Regions from separate parts of the Homo sapiens genome. Here regions 2 and 3 are each reported to be linked to region 1. The links are microRNA targets in miRTarBase. Many come from high-throughput screens and were not tested one by one. Region 1 holds a microRNA gene; each other region holds the end of a gene's coding sequence.

What was found. The annotated mature microRNA hsa-miR-6807-5p reads GUGAGCCAGUGGAAUGGAGAGG and lies in region 1 at 4,185-4,206, shown strand. An mRNA with a match to its seed (bases 2 to 7 or 8) in the 3' UTR can be bound and repressed. Matches are read on the target gene's strand: a 7mer-m8 pairs with bases 2 to 8, a 7mer-A1 pairs with bases 2 to 7 and ends in A, and an 8mer does both.
Region 2: miRTarBase lists FAM227A as a target of hsa-miR-6807-5p. Seed matches in the 3' UTR shown: 7mer-m8 at 1,533-1,539, 7mer-m8 at 3,153-3,159, 7mer-m8 at 4,476-4,482, 7mer-m8 at 4,585-4,591 and 7mer-m8 at 5,549-5,555.
Region 3: the mRNA of TPST2 is a reported target of hsa-miR-6807-5p. Seed matches in the 3' UTR shown: 7mer-m8 at 3,108-3,114, 7mer-m8 at 1,477-1,483, 7mer-A1 at 591-597 and 7mer-A1 at 472-478.

The regions. Positions count from the first base shown.
Region 1 is chr19:58,546,101-58,553,218 of GRCh38, forward strand. It overlaps MIR6807 (microRNA 6807), which reads left to right and starts at 4,185; the gene lies at 4,185-4,276. It overlaps TRIM28 (tripartite motif containing 28), which reads left to right. Exons shown (of 17, transcript NM_005762.3): 4 at 1,276-1,411; 5 at 1,497-1,613; 6 at 1,692-1,806; 7 at 1,934-2,080; 8 at 2,194-2,308; 9 at 2,386-2,492; 10 at 2,640-2,676; 11 at 2,762-2,810; 12 at 2,888-3,140; 13 at 3,231-3,550; 14 at 3,637-3,760; 15 at 3,849-3,935; 16 at 4,047-4,184; 17 at 4,277-4,615. The coding sequence ends at 4,453. It overlaps CHMP2A (charged multivesicular body protein 2A), which reads right to left. Exons shown (of 6, transcript NM_014453.4): 3 at 6,159-6,338; 4 at 5,955-6,085; 5 at 5,806-5,867; 6 at 5,466-5,676. The coding sequence ends at 5,549.
Region 2 is chr22:38,579,497-38,586,614 of GRCh38, reverse strand. FAM227A (family with sequence similarity 227 member A) reads left to right here. Exons shown (of 17, transcript NM_001013647.2): 17 at 416-7,118. The coding sequence ends at 490. Among named protein-coding and RNA genes, the nearest start is that of DMC1, 13 kb to the right of the region's middle. RefSeq lists a silencer at 804-1,004 and an enhancer at 3,549-3,598.
Region 3 is chr22:26,522,388-26,529,505 of GRCh38, forward strand. TPST2 (tyrosylprotein sulfotransferase 2) reads right to left here. Exons shown (of 7, transcript NM_003595.5): 6 at 5,827-5,875; 7 at 1-3,880. The coding sequence ends at 5,834. Among named protein-coding and RNA genes, the nearest start is that of TFIP11-DT, 13 kb to the left of the region's middle.

The DNA of each region.
Region 1 (7,118 bases):
GGGAAATAAGGGAGACCTTAATGTGCTGCAGGGAGGTACAAAGGGTTTGAGAAGGCTTATCAGGGAGTTGTCAGACCTGGTGGTGAAGGGCTCAGCATATGCAAACAGGGAAAGGCATGGTGTGAAGGGCTTTCTGGGTTTGTGGTTCCCTGGCACACATCTGGTATAAGATGCTGCTAGGGAAAGTAGACTGTGGGTCCATGGATTATAAGTGATGATGATTTTTGGAAGTGTTTTAGCTTTTGAGTTGGCAGAGACTTACCCAAAGTTTGGTTTGGCATTTCCAGCTTTTCACAGACACAGCTAGCTTTGGTTTGGAAGGAGCTTGAGAGTCTTTTGAGTCTAGCCAAGTTTTGGGGCCAGAATCCTCCCATGAGTGGCCTTTTGGTAGCCATACTGTGATTCTTCCCATCCCAGAGGACAGCATTGGTGGAAGATAGCGGGAAGGTGGTGGCTGTGGGGCCTGAGCAGCCAGGAGGGATACGCAGGGGCTGCAGGGTGTCCTACATTCCAGACGTCCCAGGCAAAGGTCAGGGTGCAGGAATGAGTGGCATTGGGGAAGTCAGTTTCCCCAATGAGCCCTGATGCTACATATTTTGGATTTGGTTGGTATGTGGGACCAGTGTGTTTGATCAGTTTTCTAATGGGGAGACAGGCTTTGGAGGTTATTAATGGGTTGGTCTTTGGGTGGGATTATGCTGAGCACCAAGATTCTGCTCTAGAGGGGGTGTGACCACCATTCTGAGGGTCCTGGTTTGACATTTCATCTCTCCCAGTATGAGAACCTCTACAAGGTTTCCTCTGGGCCCTTGGATTGTAAGAGACCCTGGTGTTCTCTTGTCAGGGAAGAGGGAGGAAGTTAACCATGAAAGGAGAAGAAAAGGAATCCAGGGTGGTGTGTAGGCAGAATTCTGAGTATGTCCACTTGGAGAAGTGTTCAGTAAAGGGAACAGTGTGGGGAAGGGTCAGCGGGGGTGGGGGGTGGGGTGGGGTGGTCCTCTTTTTCTAGACGCTGTTATCCTTACCCTTACATTGTTGTTATCTCTAGAAGCTAGAAGAAAGGGATGTGTTTCTCAGCTATGTTGGGGCAGAGGATTCTGGGAGCAAGGAGTTGGGCTTGCAGGCCTGTGTTCTTCCCTGGCCACACCCTCTACATCTTCCCAATAAATGGCCCAGTGTCACAGAACAGGCCGGAAATGAGGCCCCAACTCATTCTGCTTCCTGAGTTGGGGGTGGTGAAGGGCAAGGTCCAGCCTTATGATTCCCACTCCCCAGGGCCAGCCAAGTCTCGGGATGGTGAACGTACTGTCTATTGCAACGTACACAAGCATGAACCCCTTGTGCTGTTTTGTGAGAGCTGTGATACTCTCACCTGCCGAGACTGCCAGCTCAATGCCCACAAGGACCACCAGTGAGTCCCAAGGCATAGTGGTTGGGTGGGTGGGTGCCACCCCTTCCGTAGCTTAGTGCTCAGGAACACATCTGTCTGCTCTCAGGTACCAGTTCTTAGAGGATGCAGTGAGGAACCAGCGCAAGCTCCTGGCCTCACTGGTGAAGCGCCTTGGGGACAAACATGCAACATTGCAGAAGAGCACCAAGGAGGTTCGCAGCTCGTAAGTGTGGGTTCTGGGGCTGTGGGGGTGGCCCAGGGCAGCAAGACCCTACCTAGCCTGACCTGCTGTGTCCCCTAGAATCCGCCAGGTGTCTGACGTACAGAAGCGTGTGCAAGTGGATGTCAAGATGGCCATCCTGCAGATCATGAAGGAGCTGAATAAGCGGGGCCGTGTGCTGGTCAATGATGCCCAGGTAAGCCTTGTGCCGGTGAGAAGGGTCCCTGAGCCCCCTCTGCTGATTGATGATGCTGTCTGGGGTGAGGAGTGATCCTAGTATTCTTCTGCCTTCTCTGCTTACCTCATACACCTTCTATCTGCAGAAGGTGACTGAGGGGCAGCAGGAGCGCCTGGAGCGGCAGCACTGGACCATGACCAAGATCCAGAAGCACCAGGAGCACATTCTGCGCTTTGCCTCTTGGGCTCTGGAGAGTGACAACAACACAGCCCTTTTGCTTTCTAAGAAGTTGGTGTGTACTGGTGGGCTCCTGGCTGGTGGGTTCCAGGCAGGTGGTTCCCAATACCTCAAATCCCTATTTGTTGTTGGTGTGCTCATTCTTTCCTCCCTTTCACTCCCAACCAGATCTACTTCCAGCTGCACCGGGCCCTCAAGATGATTGTGGATCCCGTGGAGCCACATGGCGAGATGAAGTTTCAGTGGGACCTCAATGCCTGGACCAAGAGTGCCGAGGCCTTTGGTGGGTCCCCAGCTTTACCTCACTCTGTTATTACCCCACGTGCTGCACCTACTTACGTTTCTCTCTTCTTTTTGCAGGCAAGATTGTGGCAGAGCGTCCTGGCACTAACTCAACAGGCCCTGCACCCATGGCCCCTCCAAGAGCCCCAGGGCCCCTGAGCAAGCAGGGCTCTGGCAGCAGCCAGGTGAGCAGGAGAGAGGACCCAGGAAGGGGTGGGCAGGGAATGGGGTCCAGTAGCAGGAGAGAGGACCCAGGCAGGGGGGGTGGGCAGGGAATGGGGTCCAGTAGGGTTCCTGTCCCACTGAGGCAGAGGGTTCTGCTTTGTTCACAGCCCATGGAGGTGCAGGAAGGCTATGGCTTTGGGTCAGGTGAGTGGGTCTGCCTAGTGGGTGGGGAAGGGCCCCAGTGCTGTTTCTACCCCAACCTGCCAGTCTTCTTTCTCCATTTTCTAAGGAGATGATCCCTACTCAAGTGCAGAGCCCCATGTGTCAGGTGTGAAACGGTAAGTATGGCACCTCCCCTGGGGGTGAGGTGGATGGAGGGTGGGGGTGTACTCATGCCAGGTTGCTGCATCTACAGGTCCCGCTCAGGTGAGGGCGAGGTGAGCGGCCTTATGCGCAAGGTGCCACGAGTGAGCCTTGAACGCCTGGACCTGGACCTCACAGCTGACAGCCAGCCACCCGTCTTCAAGGTCTTCCCAGGCAGTACCACTGAGGACTACAACCTTATTGTTATTGAACGTGGCGCTGCCGCTGCAGCTACCGGCCAGCCAGGGACTGCGCCTGCAGGAACCCCTGGTGCCCCACCCCTGGCTGGCATGGCCATTGTCAAGGTAAGCCTGTCCCAAGGAACTATAGCTGTAGGATGAAGCCTGTAGTCCAGGTCTGGACCCTGTTGAACACCCCTCATCACCACCTTGCAGGAGGAGGAGACGGAGGCTGCCATTGGAGCCCCTCCTACTGCCACTGAGGGCCCTGAGACCAAACCTGTGCTTATGGCTCTTGCGGAGGGTCCTGGTGCTGAGGGTCCCCGCCTGGCCTCACCTAGTGGCAGCACCAGCTCAGGGCTGGAGGTGGTGGCTCCTGAGGGTACCTCAGCCCCAGGTGGTGGCCCGGGAACCCTGGATGACAGTGCCACCATTTGCCGTGTCTGCCAGAAGCCAGGCGATCTGGTTATGTGCAACCAGTGTGAGTTTTGTTTCCACCTGGACTGTCACCTGCCGGCCCTGCAGGATGTACCAGGGTGAGTGTGAGGCTGGTGGGGGTCAAGTCTGGGTGTTGGGCTGTCTGGACAGGATCATGTGCAGACCCTTATTTTCTTCACCCTAGGGAGGAGTGGAGCTGCTCACTCTGCCATGTGCTCCCTGACCTGAAGGAGGAGGATGGCAGCCTCAGCCTGGATGGTGCAGACAGCACTGGCGTGGTGGCCAAGCTCTCACCAGCCAACCAGCGGGTGAGGGCTGGGGTTACTTAGGTGGGGTTGCCCAGAGAGGCTTTATAGGTGCTGCCCAGAGCTGTGACATCCCTTACAATGTTTGTAGAAATGTGAGCGTGTACTGCTGGCCCTATTCTGTCACGAACCCTGCCGCCCCCTGCATCAGCTGGCTACCGACTCCACCTTCTCCCTGGTGAGTCCTAGGATGGGAAAGGGGAAGGGGGTGGTGGCTGCTGGGTCTCGCCCTCAACCTGTGCATGTATATGTGTGTCTTTGTGTGTGTATGTGTGATCTCTGCCTGCAGGACCAGCCCGGTGGCACCCTGGATCTGACCCTGATCCGTGCCCGCCTCCAGGAGAAGTTGTCACCTCCCTACAGCTCCCCACAGGAGTTTGCCCAGGATGTGGGCCGCATGTTCAAGCAATTCAACAAGTTAACTGAGGTGAGCCAGTGGAATGGAGAGGCTGTGGGCAGGGGGAGATGTGAAGGAAAGAACTAGGACCCATTCATCCACTGCATTCCTGCTTGGCCCAGGACAAGGCAGACGTGCAGTCCATCATCGGCCTGCAGCGCTTCTTCGAGACGCGCATGAACGAGGCCTTCGGTGACACCAAGTTCTCTGCTGTGCTGGTGGAGCCCCCGCCGATGAGCCTGCCTGGTGCTGGCCTGAGTTCCCAGGAGCTGTCTGGTGGCCCTGGTGATGGCCCCTGAGGCTGGAGCCCCCATGGCCAGCCCAGCCTGGCTCTGTTCTCTGTCCTGTCACCCCATCCCCACTCCCCTGGTGGCCTGACTCCCACTCCCTGGTGGCCCCATCCCCCAGTTCCTCACGATATGGTTTTTACTTCTGTGGATTTAATAAAAACTTCACCAGTTCCTCAGGCGTTGGCTGGTTGGGGGACTGTGGTCCTGGGGCCTGGTTTATTGACTGTATCTACTAGTCAGCCTTATCAAGCACTGGTGGCACAAGGGAGGGGGGTCTTGTCCCCCACCTATCGAAGCCCATGTGTATGGATGCCTAGGGAGTGGGGAAGACTGCCTCCTTGCCCTTTCTGGGTATGGGGAGGGTCACCCAGGGCAAAGGATGTACACACTAGAGGCTTGTTGGGTACCCTGTGGGATACTGGGTAGGTGTGACCTACATCCCTGTGTAGGCAGGGTTAGCCCCAGGTGTAGCACAGCCACTCTACTGAATGCTTCCTAAATTTTGGTGCTGTAGCTGTTTCTCATCTTCAGAAGGTCCCACAGTGAACTGAGACCTTCCAGATGTGGTTTTTTTCCCTGTCTCCCTTTGCTGAGTCCACTTAACATTATCATTCATCTCTGTGTTATGATTTAGTTACTCTACAGTCGAGCCTGTGTGAATCCCAAGGCCACCCCCTTGCCTCTATTGGTTGGTCTGGACTGTCCTTGAGTGTTGTCATTAAACCATCACTGGACCAAACAGTGTTGGACACTACAGCCTGGCAGATGAGGCCTGGACTCTCAAGATCCTACCAGGGTGTTTGGGCAGTCCAGTATCTTGGGAGAGGTGATGGAGAAGGGCCCACAGCTCACCTGAAGCTCCCAGCTCCTGAAAATCCCAGGTGGACTTTGCTTGTTCACCCCTGCCCCAAACCCCCACCCTTAGCTTAGTACCAAGTGCCTCTTGCCTTAGTGATGCCCATCCTCCCAGGGACCCCAGTCTGGTCCCACATCAGGCCAAAAGTCACATGGGCCTGGAGACTAGTGTCAAATCTCTTTTATTACAGAGGGGTTGTGGTAAAAGATCCTGGGCATCCACTGGTTATCTCGGAGTGGCAGGGGCACTCAGTCCCTCCGCAGGTTCTTAAGCCGTTCCTCCAGGTCTGCATCAGCATCAGCTAGGGCTGAGGCTGCGGCCTCTGCTTTTTTCCCACCAGCAGCCACACTAAGCGAGCCCCCAGTTGAGGGGAGGTCTGCAGAGAAAGTGGGGGTTTGAGCAGGTGGGGTCAGGCAGCGGAGGGGAGTAATGCAGGGAAAGGGAGGGCTTGGAGCTGTGGCTGGGCCTTGGGTGGGAAATGGGGTCCAGGATTTGGAGCACTCACTCGACAGCTCATCTGTTAGGCTAAGTCCCAGCTCATCCAGAACCTGGGACACCACAGCATCACTAGGGAAGAGAGAGAACTCAGTGAGGGCTATGCACTCCGTGAGGGCCAGGCAAACATCTCCACCCTCCCATCCAGTTTCCCCATACCTCTCCTCTTCATCTTCCTCATCACCCATGGCATCATCAATGGCATCATTCATCATCTCCTCCTTCATATCCATGATCTCTGCCTGCCGCTCAAACTCCATCATGATCTTCTGGATCTGGGGCAACTTCAGCTGGAAGTGACAGGAGTGTGAGTGTGATCCCCATGGGTCGTGGGAGTGGGAAGGGGGATTGGGAAAAGCGCACCTGTCTGTTCATGGTGCCCATGGCCTTGGTGACACCCTTCATGGCTTGTGCCATCGAGTTGTTGGACTTGAGTGTCTGGATCTTGAGGGACACAGCCTGGATGTTGGCCCGCATCAATACAAACTTGCGCACATAGCGCCGGGTGCGCACCAAGTCTTTTGCCATGATGCGAACAGCATCCTGCAGAGTAGACAAGGGTATCAAGGACACAGGAATGAGATTATCCTACACTTCTTGACACCCCATTAGTTGGTTGTCCCTCCCCACCAGCCCAATTTGCAATTCCACTTGAAGTTTCCAGAGACTCTGGCTAACCCAATGGTCACTGGTCCCTCCCTCCTTCTGACCTAACCCTCCTCTGCCTCTTGGGCCACCAACTCCCTGGGCTCCTTTGTAAGGTCCTCCTCACTTCTCTTGATCTGTAAATGGTAAAAGAAAGGCCCCAGGCTCACTCCTGAGGGTTCCTTTTCCCTCCATGTTTTCAGTCATTCTTTTGACTTACAACAGCCATTCCTCAATTTTTATTCCCAGCCTAGACAAAGAATCTGTCTCTTCCTTCACCTGATACAAACCCATACCTCGAACTATCCAGAATCACATACAGACCTATCTGAGGCTCAGCTTTTGATTTCCTCTCCAAACATCTTTCTTGCCCATCCCAAGAAATGGTATCTTCTCTGCCTACCTGTTCAGGCCAAAACCCTCTCACCCATCAAAGGCTGTGTTCCTTCTTCATGCTCTCCCTACTGGTTCCGGCTGTCTCTTACCAGCCTCTTGGCCATAGCTTATAGCTTACCCTTACCTTTTTTTTTTTTTTGAGTTGGAGTCTTGCTTTGTTGCCTAGGCTGGAGTGCAGTGGCACAATCTTGGCTCACTGCAAACTGTGCCTCCCGGCCTCAAGCGATTCTTCTGCCTCAGCCTCTCGAATAGCTGGGATAACAAGTATGCACCACCATGCCC
Region 2 (7,118 bases), not on the chromosome of region 1:
GTCTCCATCCCATAGCCCAGCAAATAATATTCTGAAGATTCACATCTGGAGGTGTGAAGCAGATAGACAGAGTTAGAAAACACAATCCAGGTTTTCAGCGTCACCAGAGGGATGTCACCTCCAATGGAGTAGTACCTGCCTGCTACCTAGAGGTTTTTGGGGCCCAGTTCAGATCCGACACAGCAGTGTTCCTGTCAGTACTGGTGAAAGATGAAGGATGGAGGCACTGGGGATGTGGAAGCCGTGGATGCCAGCTGTCCTGCTCGACCACTTTCTCTGGAGGCAGGAGCACGCCCTCAATATTCCATGCACACAAGGATCACCACTGGCCACGCCACTGCTCACGTGCAAAGTCTTTGAAGAAATTACATTTTTTAAATTAATTTTTGTTTTTGTTCGTTTGTTTCCCCCACAGGAGGGGAAAGGAGGAGAGGGAAAGAGAAGAGAAACAGAAGTTGAACATTTCTTTCCACTCACTTCCAAGCCCTGAGGAGCTCCACAACCTAGAACCAGGAAGCGCCTACAGAATCCGTGATATTTCTGCTACGAGGTGGAGTGGAACAAGAAAATAAGAAAATTGTGGCCAAAGACAGAAATAGGAATCATGATTTCTCCATAGGGGAAGGATTCCGTTGTAGTTTTTCCTAGGCTGAGTGAAAAGCAGGAGTAGAGAGTTGGTGCTTGGGTCACTACATTTATTCATAGATTTACTCTTTCAGTATTTTATTACGTGCATGCTGGTAAGTATGTTACAAATATGACCTCATACAAAGGTAAAACTTTCATACCAGCCGTATGAAGTAGGGATTATCCACTGCATTTTACGCAGCAGCAAGCCCAGGTTTAGAAAGGTTTCCGAAGTTCTCTGCTGTAGACACTGGGTAATTAACAGTAGATAAGACACAGTCCCTGTTCTCAAGGGAGTCACCATCTGGTAGAGGGAAGACAGATGTATCAACACATTAAATGCTGTAAGTATTGGACAGAGGAAAAAGAGAAAAGTGTTGTGAGGGAAAAGGAAAATGGGCCTAGAGGAGTGCAATTTTTTGTAACAAGCTTTGTGGAACTATTAATTTGATAATTTGATAGGCGCTTCTATTATGCTGCCTCTGAACCTTTGCCTCCTGCTCCTCTAACCACTGGGATTGCCAGCCTATTTCCAATATGCCCTCTTTCTGCCTGGCAAACATCTTGTCTTTTCTAAACTCAGCCCAGGGACATGACATCTGTAATGTGTTTCTGTGTGACTCCCAGGCTTCTGCCTTCTTAACCTCTCACCTTCCAGCTCATTTGAGTGAATCTTTGTCCAAGAATTGAGAGAAACTTTATAGGTAAAGCATGCACATGTTGTCTGATTTAATCTAAAATAGAAATAAGAAAACAAAAAATAATACTGCAACTAGGGACACATTTAGTCACTCCCAGTTCATGAGACAAGGAATAGTAAAGTTCATTCCTACCATAGCAAAAGTCAGGATTTAAATGTAAATTAATTTTTTTAATTAAAAAATTTTAAATTAGGCCAGGCGTGGTGGCTCACACCTGTAATCCCAGCACTTTGGGAGGCTGAAGTGGGCAGATCACGAGGTCAGGAGTTCGAGACCATCCTGGCCAACATGGTGAAACCCCATCTCTACTAAAAATACAAAAATTAGCTGGATGTTGTGGCGGGCACCTGTAATCCCAGCTACTCGGGAGGCTGAGGCAGAAGAATCGTTGGAACCCAGGTGGCGGAGGTTGCAGTGAGCCAAGACCATGCTATTGCACTCCAGCCTGGGCAACAAGAGCGAAACTCTGTCTCAAAAAAAAATTTTTTTTAATTAATTTTAACTAAATTAAATTTTTTAGAGGCAGACTCTCAGTCTGTTGTCCAGGCTGGAATGCAGTGGCGCAGTCATAGCTCACTGCAACCTCAAATTCCTGGGCTGAAGCAATCCTCCCACCTCAGCCTCCCAAGTAGCTAGGACTACAGGTATGCCACCATGTCTGGCTAATTTTTAAAGAAATTTTTTTGTAGAGATGGGATCTCACTGTGTTGCCCAGGCTGGTCTCGAACTCCTGGCTTCAAGTAATCCTCCTGCCTTGTCCTTCCAAAGCACTGGGATTCTAAGTGTGAGCCACCACACCTGGCCTGGAGTATCTAATATTGTATAACATAATAATAGTAATCATAGGTGATGTCATTTATTGAGTACTTAGTATGTGCTGAGTGCTCTGCTAAGTCTGGTTTAGACATTATCTCAGTTAACCTTCCTGGTGTCCCCCAAGATGGATATTGTTACCTCCATTTTCTCCTAGGAAGAAACGGACTTGGGGGGGATGATTAGGTATTTGCTAGATGTCTATTCTGTACCATCCCTGCACTAGGCCCTGTGAATACAGAGATAAATAAAGACACAGTCCCTGACCTTATGGGGCTCACAATCTGGAAAAAAGAGAAGGATGTGTAAACCAATAAATGCATTAATGCTCCGATAGAAAGCTGCGTGGAATCTGAGAAAAACCAAGGCAGATGAAGCCAGTGTGCCAGCAGCCCTTTGGGACAGAAGATATTTCACTGAGGGGCACAGGCACAGGGGTTGGTTTGCCAAAGGACCAGCAGCTGGGCTGAAGGGCATAGGTTTTATCATTTGAGCTTCAAGGCACAAGGCAGTGACCTGGTCTGTGCTAGAACAGTTCACCTGTCACAGCCAAGAGGAAAGAAATGGTGCAGATGGCTGTTTGCCCAAACCAAGCAGCAGATAAGCAGATCTTGGGAAATGTAGCTCATCCCTCAGACACACATCTTTACTTGAATCCTGAGTAGAACTCTAGGTGACCCCCTTGGAGGCTATTACTCATGTAAAAGGGGATGAAGGAAAGGTAAGAGAGAAGGAGCTTAGGCTTTGGCATGAGAAAATTTGGGCCTTTGAATCCCTGCCCTGCTTCACCATATGGATGTGTGACTCAGCATAGTAGCTGTGCATCTTGACCTTTCTGAACGTGCTTTCTTGACTGCAGAAAGGGAATGCCTGCCTAGGAGGGTTGTTGTGAGGATTAGATGAGATAATTTGTGCAAAGTTCTTGGCACAGTACTTTTCACTTTGTAATTGCCACAAGCTGTTATTGTTGTTATTGCTGTTATAAAGTGTACTCTTCTTGGCCGGGTGCAGTGGCTCATGCCTGTAATCCCAGCACTTTGGGAGGCCAAGGCAGGTGGATCGCCTGAGGTCAGGAGTTTGAGACCAGCCTGGCCAACGTGGCGAAACTCCATCTCTACTAAAAATACAAAAAAATTAGCCGGGCACAATGGCAGGTGCCTGTAACCTCAGCTACTCAGGAGGCTGAGGCAGGAGAATCACTTGAACCCGGGAGGTGGAGGATGCAGTGAGCTGAGATTGCACCATTGCACTCCAGCCTGGGTAACAAGAGTGAAACTCCATCTCAAAAAAAAAAAAAAAAAAGTATAGTCTTCTGAAACCAGAACGTGTGAGCACCTGCCGAGTACAAGGCACCATGTGGGGCAGATAAGCAGAACACTCTCTCACCTTCCCTTTACTACCCCAGCCACTGTCAACTCTTCATTTGCAGTTTCTCTAGGAACCACACTTTCCTATTTCTGGATCTTTTGTCTGTTGCTGCTTCTGGACCTGAAAATGCCTTCTCCTCCCTCCTCTTTGTTAACTGCCAACATCACTAATTCCTGCTCTTCCTCCAGGACCCCGCTTAGACGTCCCTCATCTTGGGAGCCTTCCCTAATATACCAGGAGCAAGGTAGGCACAAGTGCTCCACTGCATTATGCTCCAACAGCATTCTGTGCCATCCCATTATGGCAGCAGTTACCATAGTAGATTGGAATTGCCTGTCTACCTATCCACCGCTACTATTAGCCCCCATACAGCAAGAAGGTCTCCTTATTTTCTAAGCCCAGGACAAACTGCATTTCTGTCTGTCAGGACCATTTGTTGCACAGTCCAAGATCATCCCTGCATGGACCCTTTCCAGAAATGACTGAGGACTCAGAGTTGTAGCCTCTCAGGATGTTAAATATGAAGAAACCTGTCTCTGCCCTTTGTAAACATTAGAAGGGAAAATTATGGGGAAGAATTATTTGCCCTTTATAAGGGAAGCGGGGTAGAGCATCAAAGGGAACTAACATTTAAAAAGCATTTGCTGTAATGTGGGATAAAGCAAATGAGTAATTGTATGATATTCTAATTCTGTCATTCCCAGTGTTGCTGAAAACCCATACTCTCAGCATGGAAGAAGATAAATTCAGATGTTAAACTAGAAGAGATGAAGTTAAAATCCTATAGTCCTGATTTTGAATTGCTTATGAATTGATGATGAAATGTATGTTTTAGAACATACAGTTTCCTGAAGAACAGGAGGGATAGCTGGAGAGGGGATAGGAGGGAAGCTGGAAGGGGTTACAAAGAGGCCCAAATAAACTTTTGGGGGTGACAGATATGTCTACTATCTTGATTGTGGTGAATGGCTCATGGGTGTATACACACCTAAATACACTTTAAATGTGTGCAGTTTCTCATATGTCAATTATACTTCGATAAAGCTTTGTTAAAAAACGAACAGGCCAGGCATGGTGGCTCACACCTGTAATCCCAGCACTTTGGAAGGCCAAGGCAAGAGGATTGCTTGAGGCCAGGAGTTTGAGACCAAACAGGACAACATAGTGAGACCTTGCCTCTACAAAAACATAAAAAATTAGTCCGATGTGGTAGTGCATACCTATAGTCCTAGCTACTAGGGAGGCTGAGGTGGGAGGATCGCTTGAGCCTGGGAGCTTAAGGCTGCCATGAGCTGTGATTGTGCTACTAGACTCAGCCTGGATGATAGAGCAAGACTGTGTCTGGGAAAAAAAAAAAAAAAAACCTGAGCCAGGTGCGGTGGCTAACGCCTGTAATCTCAGCACTTTGGGAGGCCGAGGCGGGTGGATTGCCTGAGACCAGTAGTTTGAGACCAGCCTGACCAACATGGCGAAATCCTGTCTCTACTCAAAATGCAAAATTAGCCGGGTGTGGTGGCAGCTGCCTGTAGTCCCGGGTACTCGCAAGGCTGAGGCAGGAGAATTGCTTGAACCCAGGAAGCGGAGGTTACAGTGAGCCAAGATCATGCCACTGCACTCCAGCCTGGACAACACAGTGAGACTCTGTCTCAAAAATATGTGTATATATTTCCTAAAACTCTGTCCACTGAAATGACCTAGAAATAAAGACTGACCCGGCAGCAGTGACCCAGACTGTGGTCTTGAAATACTATTTGCCCTAAAAGGATCTAGGGATCCTTGAAGAAATGATCAGTTCCAGGTCTAGGGCAGGAAAATCATGAGACCTGAAACATCTTATCACACTTAACACCAAGGAAGCTATCAAAGACAAGGATCCTGTCAGAAAGACTTGGGAGCAAACTTAGAGACAATCCCATTAGCTAAAAGAGAGGACCATTTGGGCATTAATAATAATTGCCATATTTGAAGCACGTCAAACGTGTTCTCACCTGTAAGTTCATATTGTGACTTTTAAAAAACGGATTGGTGTCTGGACGCGGTGGCTCACGCCTGTAATCCCAGCACTTTGGGAGGCCGAGGTGGGCAGATCACCTGAGGTCAGGAGTTTGAGACCAGCCTGGCCAACAAGGCAAAATCCCGTCTCTACTAAAAATACAAAAATCAGCCAGGCGTGGTGGTGCATGCCTGGAATCCTAGCTATTCGGGAGGCCGAGACACAAGAATCACTTGAACTTGGGAGGCGGAGGTTACAGTGAGCTGAGATCGCACCACTGCACTCCAGCCTAGGTGATGGAGTGAGACTGTCTCAAAGATAAAAAAGGAAAGGGGAAAGGAGGAAACTAATTGGATACTAGGAAACTTCCTCATTATTTTGAAAATTGGTAAGTAAATGAATAAGCATTTATCATGCCATTCCCATATGAACTGTATTACCAGGTAACCAAATAGTAGTGGAACAGAAACTTGTCTTTAGAAACAATCCACCTAATAAATTCAGAAATAATGATAGACTTAAAATATCACCATTTTGAAACCCCTAATGAATTAATGGATCTAGGTTGATTATCCATGGCTGCTTACATCACAAAAGACAAACAGCTATTAAATGCCTTTTGATACTAGACCATAAGACCACCTATCAAATAGTCTTACAAATAAGTAAACTTGAATGTGATCTGAACTCTAGATCCAACCACCATAACAGGAAATACAGAGGATGGGGACATCATGGCAAATGGTAAATGACACCTAGGGGATGCAATCAGCAAAATCCAGGCCATGGAAAACTCCAGGGCAAATGACTTCATTTTTTTCAACAAATAAGTTTCAAGGGAAAAAGAGAGGGGGAATATATAGATTAAAAGAGACTTAAAAGAGGACATCGGTTGCCGAGCATGGTGGCCCATGCCTGTAATCCCAGCACTTTAGGAGGCCAAGGTGGAAGAACCCCTAGAGCCCAGGAGGTGAGACCAAACCGGGTAACATAGTGAGACCTTGTCTCTACAAAAAAAGTAAAAATTAGCAGAGCAAGGTGGCATACGCCTGTAGTCCTAGCTACTTGGGAGGCTGACGTGGGAGAATTGCTTAAGCCTGGGAGTTGGAGGGTGCAGTGAGCTATGATCATGCCACTGCACACTCCAGCCTAGGTGACAGAATGAGACCACATCTCTAAAAAGAAAAAAAAAAGACATCAATCAATTACAACATGTGGACATTATTTGGATCCCATTGAAACAAAATGTGGCATTTATGAGACAAATGGATATCTGAATCTTAAATATTTTATATATAAAATTATTCTAGGCGTGATAATAGCATTATGGTTATATTTTTTAAAGAGTTATCACATTTTAGAGATATATACTGAAATATTCACAGATGGAATTACAAGATTTATGGAATTTGTACTCAAATAATATGGGAGAGAGAAAGTGGATGGAGGTATAGGTGAAACAAGATTGACCATGTGTTGAAAATTGTTGAAGATGGGTGATGGGAATATTATACTGTTTTACTTTTGTGCATATTTGATTTTAGCCATAATTTTTAAAATTAAAGGCATCTACCATGGACACTTCTAAGCATATTTTACACACTTTCATTGTGGTC
Region 3 (7,118 bases), not on the chromosome of region 1:
GCTGCCCAAGCTGGACAGAGGATGGGCCAGGGCACAAGTGACGGCTGACCCACTGATCCATGGAACCCCCAAGAAAGGCTCTAGAACAAAGCTCTGATTTCACAGTGAGATTAAAATTCTGCCCAAATCAGGGTACATGGGTGGAATTAATCAAAAAAGTTAGTATGTATGCCTTTCACCCCAGCAATTCTACTTCTCATTTTGCAGAGACTCACTCATACAGTGGCATCAAGAGGTTATATGTGCAGGAGAACGTCCACTGCAGCTTTGCCAGTAGCGATGAAAACTGCTAACAGCCTAAGGGCCTAGCCAAAGTGGAATGCTCAAAAAAGATGGTTTGCTCTAGAACAGGCAGCTGGTAAAAGGAGTGGTGTTAGATCAGCACATGTTCACATCAGAAATGCTCCAGGAGCCAGGTGCGGTGGCTCACGCCTGTAAACCCAACTCTTTGAGAGGCTGAGGAAGGATTGCTTGAGCCCAGGAGTTTGAGACCAGCCTGGGCAACATAGTGATTCCCCTCTTTACAAAAAATAAAAAGTTAGGTAGGTGTCATGGTCCAGCTACTCAGGAGGCTGAGGTGAAAGGACTGCTTGAGCCCAGGAGTTAGAGGTTGCAGTGAGCTGTGTTTGCAGGAGTTAGAGGTTGCAGTGAGCTGTGTTTGCAGGAGTTAGAGGTTGCAGTGAGCTGTGTTTGCAGGAGTTAGAGGTTGCAGTGAGCTGTGTTTGCAGGAGTTAGAGGTTGCAGTGAGCTGTGTTTGTGCCACTGCACTGCAGCCTGAGCAACCAAGCGGGACTCTGTCTCCAAAACAAACAAACAAACAATCCTCCAGAGCAATCTGTTAAATTACATTTTGGAATAACCTATTCAAAATGGTTTTTTCCATACGTCTTTAAGATGATAATATTTATATGTTCAAAAATTTAAAGTCTGGAAGACTATGTACAAACAGAAAATGGTAGCATTACCTTTAGGAGCTATTGAGAGGAAGTACAAATAGAGCCACTTGCCTTCTTACTATCAATTCTGATTGTCCCATGTTTTATAATATATTCATGTAGTACTCTAAACAAAATCTTTTCAGATCAAATCAGGGGAGATGAAATGAGAGTGGATTCTGAGCCTAGTTTTTTTCAGGGAACAAGACCCAGTGCTACCACTTAGGGGCTAGAAACAGAAATTGTATTTATTTTATTTTGTTTTATTTATTTTATTTTTGAGATGGAGTCTCACTCTGTTGCCCAGGCTGGAGTGTACTAGCATGATCTTGGTTCACTGCAACCTCTGCCTCCTGGGTTCAAGCAATTCTCCTGCCTCAGCCTCCCAAGTAGCTGCAACTACAGGCATGCGCCACGACGCCCAGCTAATTTTTGTATTTTTAGTAGATGGGGTTTCGCCACGTTGGCCAGGCTGGTCTGGAACTCCTGACCTCAGCTTATCTGCCCACCTCAGCCTCCCAAAGTGCTGGGATTACAAGCATGAGCCACCGGGCCCGGCCTCTTTATTTTCTTTCAGTGTTTTCCCAGGAAGTTCTCTGAACATCCAGGGTCTTCACAGATGGACTTCTCATAAAAGGTAACTCCTGGAACCAGACATAAATTTTTTTTTTGGGGTGTGTGGTGATGGGATACATAGCTGTCGCCAGATTCTCAAAGGGACAGTGTCACACTTAACAGAGCAAGGAGAGTAATCGGTGATTGGTGAATGATCATTTATCAGAGACTGTGTGTCAAACATTTAAAAAATAAAAAGTAACTGCTGAAGAAATGAACAAAAAGGGTCACACCTTCAAAAAAGCCTAATTTCCATTCCAGAGCAATCTCAAGACAAGGAAAAATAAGAGCTGCTTCACACTGAGGGCTTATCTGGTATCAAGGACCACCGCCAATGTCATCCATTAGCCATCCCCAATAAACCCATGAAGTTCAGCCTGAACAGCATAGAAAGACCTCGTCTCTACAGAAAAAAAAAAATTTAAAAAGTAGCCAGGTGTGGTGGCACATGCCCAGCTACTCAGGAGGCTAAGATGGGAGGATCACCTGACCCTAGGAGACCGAGGCTGCAGTGAGCTATGATCACGCCACTGTACTCTAGCCTGAGTGACAGAGCGAGATTCTGTCTAAACACACACATACACACATACACACCATGAAGTTTTAACTTCCCCATTTTACAGATGAAGAGACAAAGTCTCAAGCCATACAGCCAGTAGGTCAGCCTGACTCCAAAAACCCATGCCCCAAGCCACAATAAGTCACTGCCTTCCAAAAGCCTCATATTATCATGAGATATAAGGCAAGGAGGTATGGGTAAAACACCTTAACCCTTAAAGATACAAACTTATTGTAGGCCCAGTTGGTCCCTCAGCATTTGGGGACTGTGCTATAAGGGTTAACTCAGCAGGCTTGAAGTGTCCAAACCCAGCACATCTCAAAGAAAAAACTGGCCTTAATGGGCTCCTGGGAGATAACCTCTAAGTCCTTGGAATATCCTCCCAAGTAGGGGTGTCTTTGTATACCTCAGGCCTTGGGCCATACCAGGCCAGATAGTTTGTGCTAATAATGTGATTTATGGTGGGGACCTTGGGCCATGCTGTATCATTTTGACCTCTGGAGCAGCTGGTGATTAAGTAACTAAAGTCGGTCATGTGATTGCCCTATGTGACTGACATGCAATAAAAACCTAGACCCCAAGGCTAGGGTGAGCTTTCTGGCTGGTAATATTTAGTACGTGTTGTCACATATCATTGCTGGGAAAATTAAGTGTGTCTGTAAGACTCTACCAGGAGATGACAACTGGAAGCTTGAGGCCGGTCTCTCCCGGACTCTGCCCTATGCACCTTTTTCTTTTGTTGATTTTATTTTGAGATGGAGTCTTGCTCTGTCACCCAGGCTGGAGTATAATGGCACGATCTCCGCTCACTGCAACCTCCGCCTCCCAGGTTCAAGCCTCCTGAGTAGCTGGGATTACAGGTGCACACCACCACGCCCAGGTAATTTTTGTATTTTTAGTAGAGACGGGGTTTCACCATGTTGGCCAGGCTGGTCTCGAACTCCTGACCTCAGGCGATCTGCCTGCCTTGGCCTCCCAAAGTGCTGGGATTACAGGCGTGAGCCACTCCACCCGGCCTCTTTTGCTGATTTTAATGTTTATCCTTTTGCTGTAATAAACCATAACCATAAGGATAATAGCTCTTCTGAATTCTGAGTTCTTCTAGCCAATCATCGATCCTGGGGGTGGCCCTGGGGACCCTGACACAGGAATTCAGCTGTGCCTTACATGCACCTATATTCTCCAGCTTTTTGCTCATCACAAATCTACCTGACAAAATCCAGTATGGAAAGAAAAAAAAAACCCTATTCATTCAGTAAAGTAAGGCACAAACAAATGAGCCTCTGTTCACTTTATTCAAAGAGTATTTTTTTCCTCTGTGAAACTAGGTAGAACTGAGGAGGAATCAAAGAAAGCCTCATATATTAAACTCTTAAATAGATTCTTTGAATTCAAAGTAAGGGTCAATAGGAGAGGCACAGGTTGTGGGCCTTGTCCCAGCAAACAAAGCCACCAAGGCAGTCCTGCAAATTAAGGAGGATGGCAAATCTGTCTCTTAAAAAAAAGTTCTTGAGGGGAAAAATATAAAATACCTAAGTTTCAAAAGCCGGACTACTTCCATACCCTTCATTCTCTACCCTGGAGTGTCCAGAGATAGAGAGTTTCAAGGTACGTTTTCAATGATTCAGCTTTTGCAAACATATGCAAATACATTCCTCATCAGCAGTCCTGTTTTGGCGATTAATAGCAAGCAATATGCTTGGATTAGAGGTCCGATTTCCACTTAAATGCATTTTCTTCTCTTCTTGGCAATGAAGTCATTTGCGGAGATCTGAAAGTGGGGAAGACTGTGTTAGGCTCAGAGTAACAATTCTGAAATAGATCATTTATATTTATACATGTGATTGCAGAACATACTGTCTTCATCCATTCGCATAAGCATGTAATGTTTTAAGAATGCATCCCAGATGGCCAGAGAGAGTTTAAATTTAAAAACGTTTCCTGGGTTCTTCCCCACATCTCATCTTGCATCCACTTGACCTCAAATATACACTTTTCTTATGGACACAGAGCAAATGACAGTGATTATGTGATAAATACTGATGAATTCTTGGAGGCAAGAGAAGGACTCATGTTTGTTCAAGGCCAACTCTGTACCCAGGATTCAGCTAAAGCACCTCTATATGGTATCTCATTTAAACAGTAAAACAAGTAACAAATCTGCTTTTGTCAATGAGAAGGTCCAGGATTCTACTAATGATCTGCAGAAAGGCAGCGAGGGAACAGTTAGTGAGGAACAGGGAGGAAAGCTGTTTTTCATGAGAGGGTTCTTTTCTTTGGAATAGAACTATGGGATCTTGGGTAGGTGTGGTGGCTCATGCCTGTAATCCCAGCACTTTGGGAGGCTGAGGTGGGCAGATCACTTGAGGCCAGGAGTTTGAGACCAGCCTGGCCAACATGGTGAAACCCCGTCTCTACTAAAAATACAAAAATTAGCTGGGTGTGGTAGCGCACACTTGTAACCCCAGCTACTTGGAAGGCTGAGGCACGAGAGTCACTTGAACCCCAGAAGGTGGAGATTGCTGTGAGCTGAGATCGTGCCACTGCACTCCAGCCTGGGGAACAGGGTGAGACTCTGTCTCAAAAACAAAAACTCTGGGATCTTAGTGCAACTCAAGATGGGAACCCTAATAATGACAGAGTCCTTGCAGGTTGGAGCAAAGTAAATTGAAAGAAAAACTAAAACATATGCTGATTGTTTAAAAATAGATACAGAGACTAAAAATAAGAGTCCAAGCTGGAAGGTGTTTCCATGTAAAATAACCTCTCTTGAGGTTTCCTTTAACCTGATCATAGAGGCTGGGGGACAGAAGGAAGTGAGCTCACTCATGCAGCCTTAACTCCAGTGCCCAAGTCCACAGCGAGGGCCCAGCACTTCACGGTTTCCAAGCACTCCCACCTGGGCCAGCTCACGCCATCTCATGGCCAACCTCAGAGGTGGGCAATGATGAATCCCCATTCTCCAGATGAAGAAAACAGGGGCTGAAGGGAGTTAAACCTGGAGATCTTAAATCTTTGAATTACCAAGTTCAAAAAAATCCCTTTCCCCACCCCTTAGTAGAATATGGATGGATAAATGTGCACTTAAAATCATTCACTAAAAGCAAACCTGGGAGGAATTCTGTCCCTTGGTGGCTGTGTAGCCTTGGGCAAGTCAAAGCCCTTCCTTCTCTGTGCTTTGGTTTTCTCTTCTGTAAAATGGAATGATCATGTCATCCGCCTCCCAAGGATGCTGAGGGTTAAATGAGTAACACAGGACCAGTACCTGGCCCAACGGCCATGGGGGTTATTCTTAGAACAGAACGACTTGTGACTGTTATTAGAACATTAATTGCTCTGGCCCAACGCTGATGCTGTTTTTAGAAGCCAGACTGGCAGACAGCATTCTGTGCAAAAATGGTTCCAGAATCTCCCCCTCCCCCATCATAGTGGTGCTTCCTGCCCTGTCCCCAGTGTCAGACAAACCTTTTTCTGGTTGGTTCAGCGTTAATCCCTCTCCCTGTCCTTGATCCAGAGCTAGAAAACTAAGCCTTGATTCTATAAATAGCACCCCCAGTCTGTCACCATGGAAACCTCTGATGGGGCTGGGTCAGCCCACCCTAGTGGACATGTCTACCCCAGGGAGGCTCTGGAAGGACAGAAAAGTGGCTTTTCAGAAAAGTGGCTCCGGGGCCACCCAGAAGCAGCGGGAACCCCCAGTGAAGTCCACAGGCTTACCTGGAAATCACGAGCTTCCTAAGTGGGAGGAGGTGCTGTTCTGGTTCACCTGGAGAAAGACAATACACAGAAGAAGGGGTCACGGCCAGGTGAGGGATGCCTTGCTGTATTGAGGGTCACCCCTCAGCATCACTGAGTCATGCACATGCTTATTCACGTAGTATTTACTGTACATCTACTATGTGCCAGGTGCTGGGATAGCGTGGTGAGCGGGACAGACCCAAACCTAGGATCACGGAACTTACGTTCGAGTTGAAGAAAAAGCCTACTGAACACGCACAGATGCAAGAAAATGTCAAACTTGGGCAATATGACAGGCTGCTATGAGTGATCAGTATCTGTGCTACTTCAAAAACGGTGGCCAGGAAAGGACTCTACAAGATGGCATTTCAGCTGTGGTATAATAATAAATATTTGTTCATTGTCCCCAGTTCCTGGCACATAGCTCCCCAAACTCTTGGAATCTCTGAAGGAATAAGGGTATCTTGGCCGGGCGCCATGGCTCATGGCTGTAATCCCAGCGCTTTGGGAGGCCGAGGAGGGTGGATCACCTGAGGTCAGGAGTTTGAGACCAGCCTGGCCAACATGGCAAAACTCTGTCTCTACTAAAATACAAAAATTAGCCGGGTGTGGTGGCGGGCACCTGTAATCCTAGCTACTCAGGAGGCTGAGGCAGGAGAATCGCTTGAACCCGGGAGGCAGAGGTTGCAGTGAGCCAAGATCATGCCACTGCACTCCAGCCTGGGTGACAGAGGGAGACTAGGTATCAAAAAAACAAAAACAAAAACAAAAAAAAAACAAAACGTATCTTTTGCATGCTAATGACATGACTAATGGCTGGGGGTCCCTAGATAGCTTCAGGATTAGGGGAAGGGGTCTCAGAAAGACCAAGGCATGATTAGAGGGTTGGAACTTTTTTTGTTGTTTGAGACGGAGTCTCACTGTGTTGCCCAGGCTGGATGGAGTGCGGTGGTGCAATCTTGGTTCACTGCAACCTCCGCGTCCTGAGCTCAAGCAATTCTCCTGCCTCAGCCTTCCAAGTAGCTGGGACTACAGACGTGTGCCACCACGAATGGCTAATATTTTTTGTATTTTTAGTAGAGACAGGGTTTCACCATGTTGGCCCGGCTGGTTTTGAACTGCTGACCTCAAGTGATCTGCCTGCCTCAGCCTCCCAAAGTGCTAGGATTACAGGCATGAGCCACCACACCCAGCCAGAAGGTTGGAACTTTAAGCCCCACCTGCCTTCTCCCCTCCCTGACCTCCTGGGAGGGGAGAGGGGAGAGGGTCTA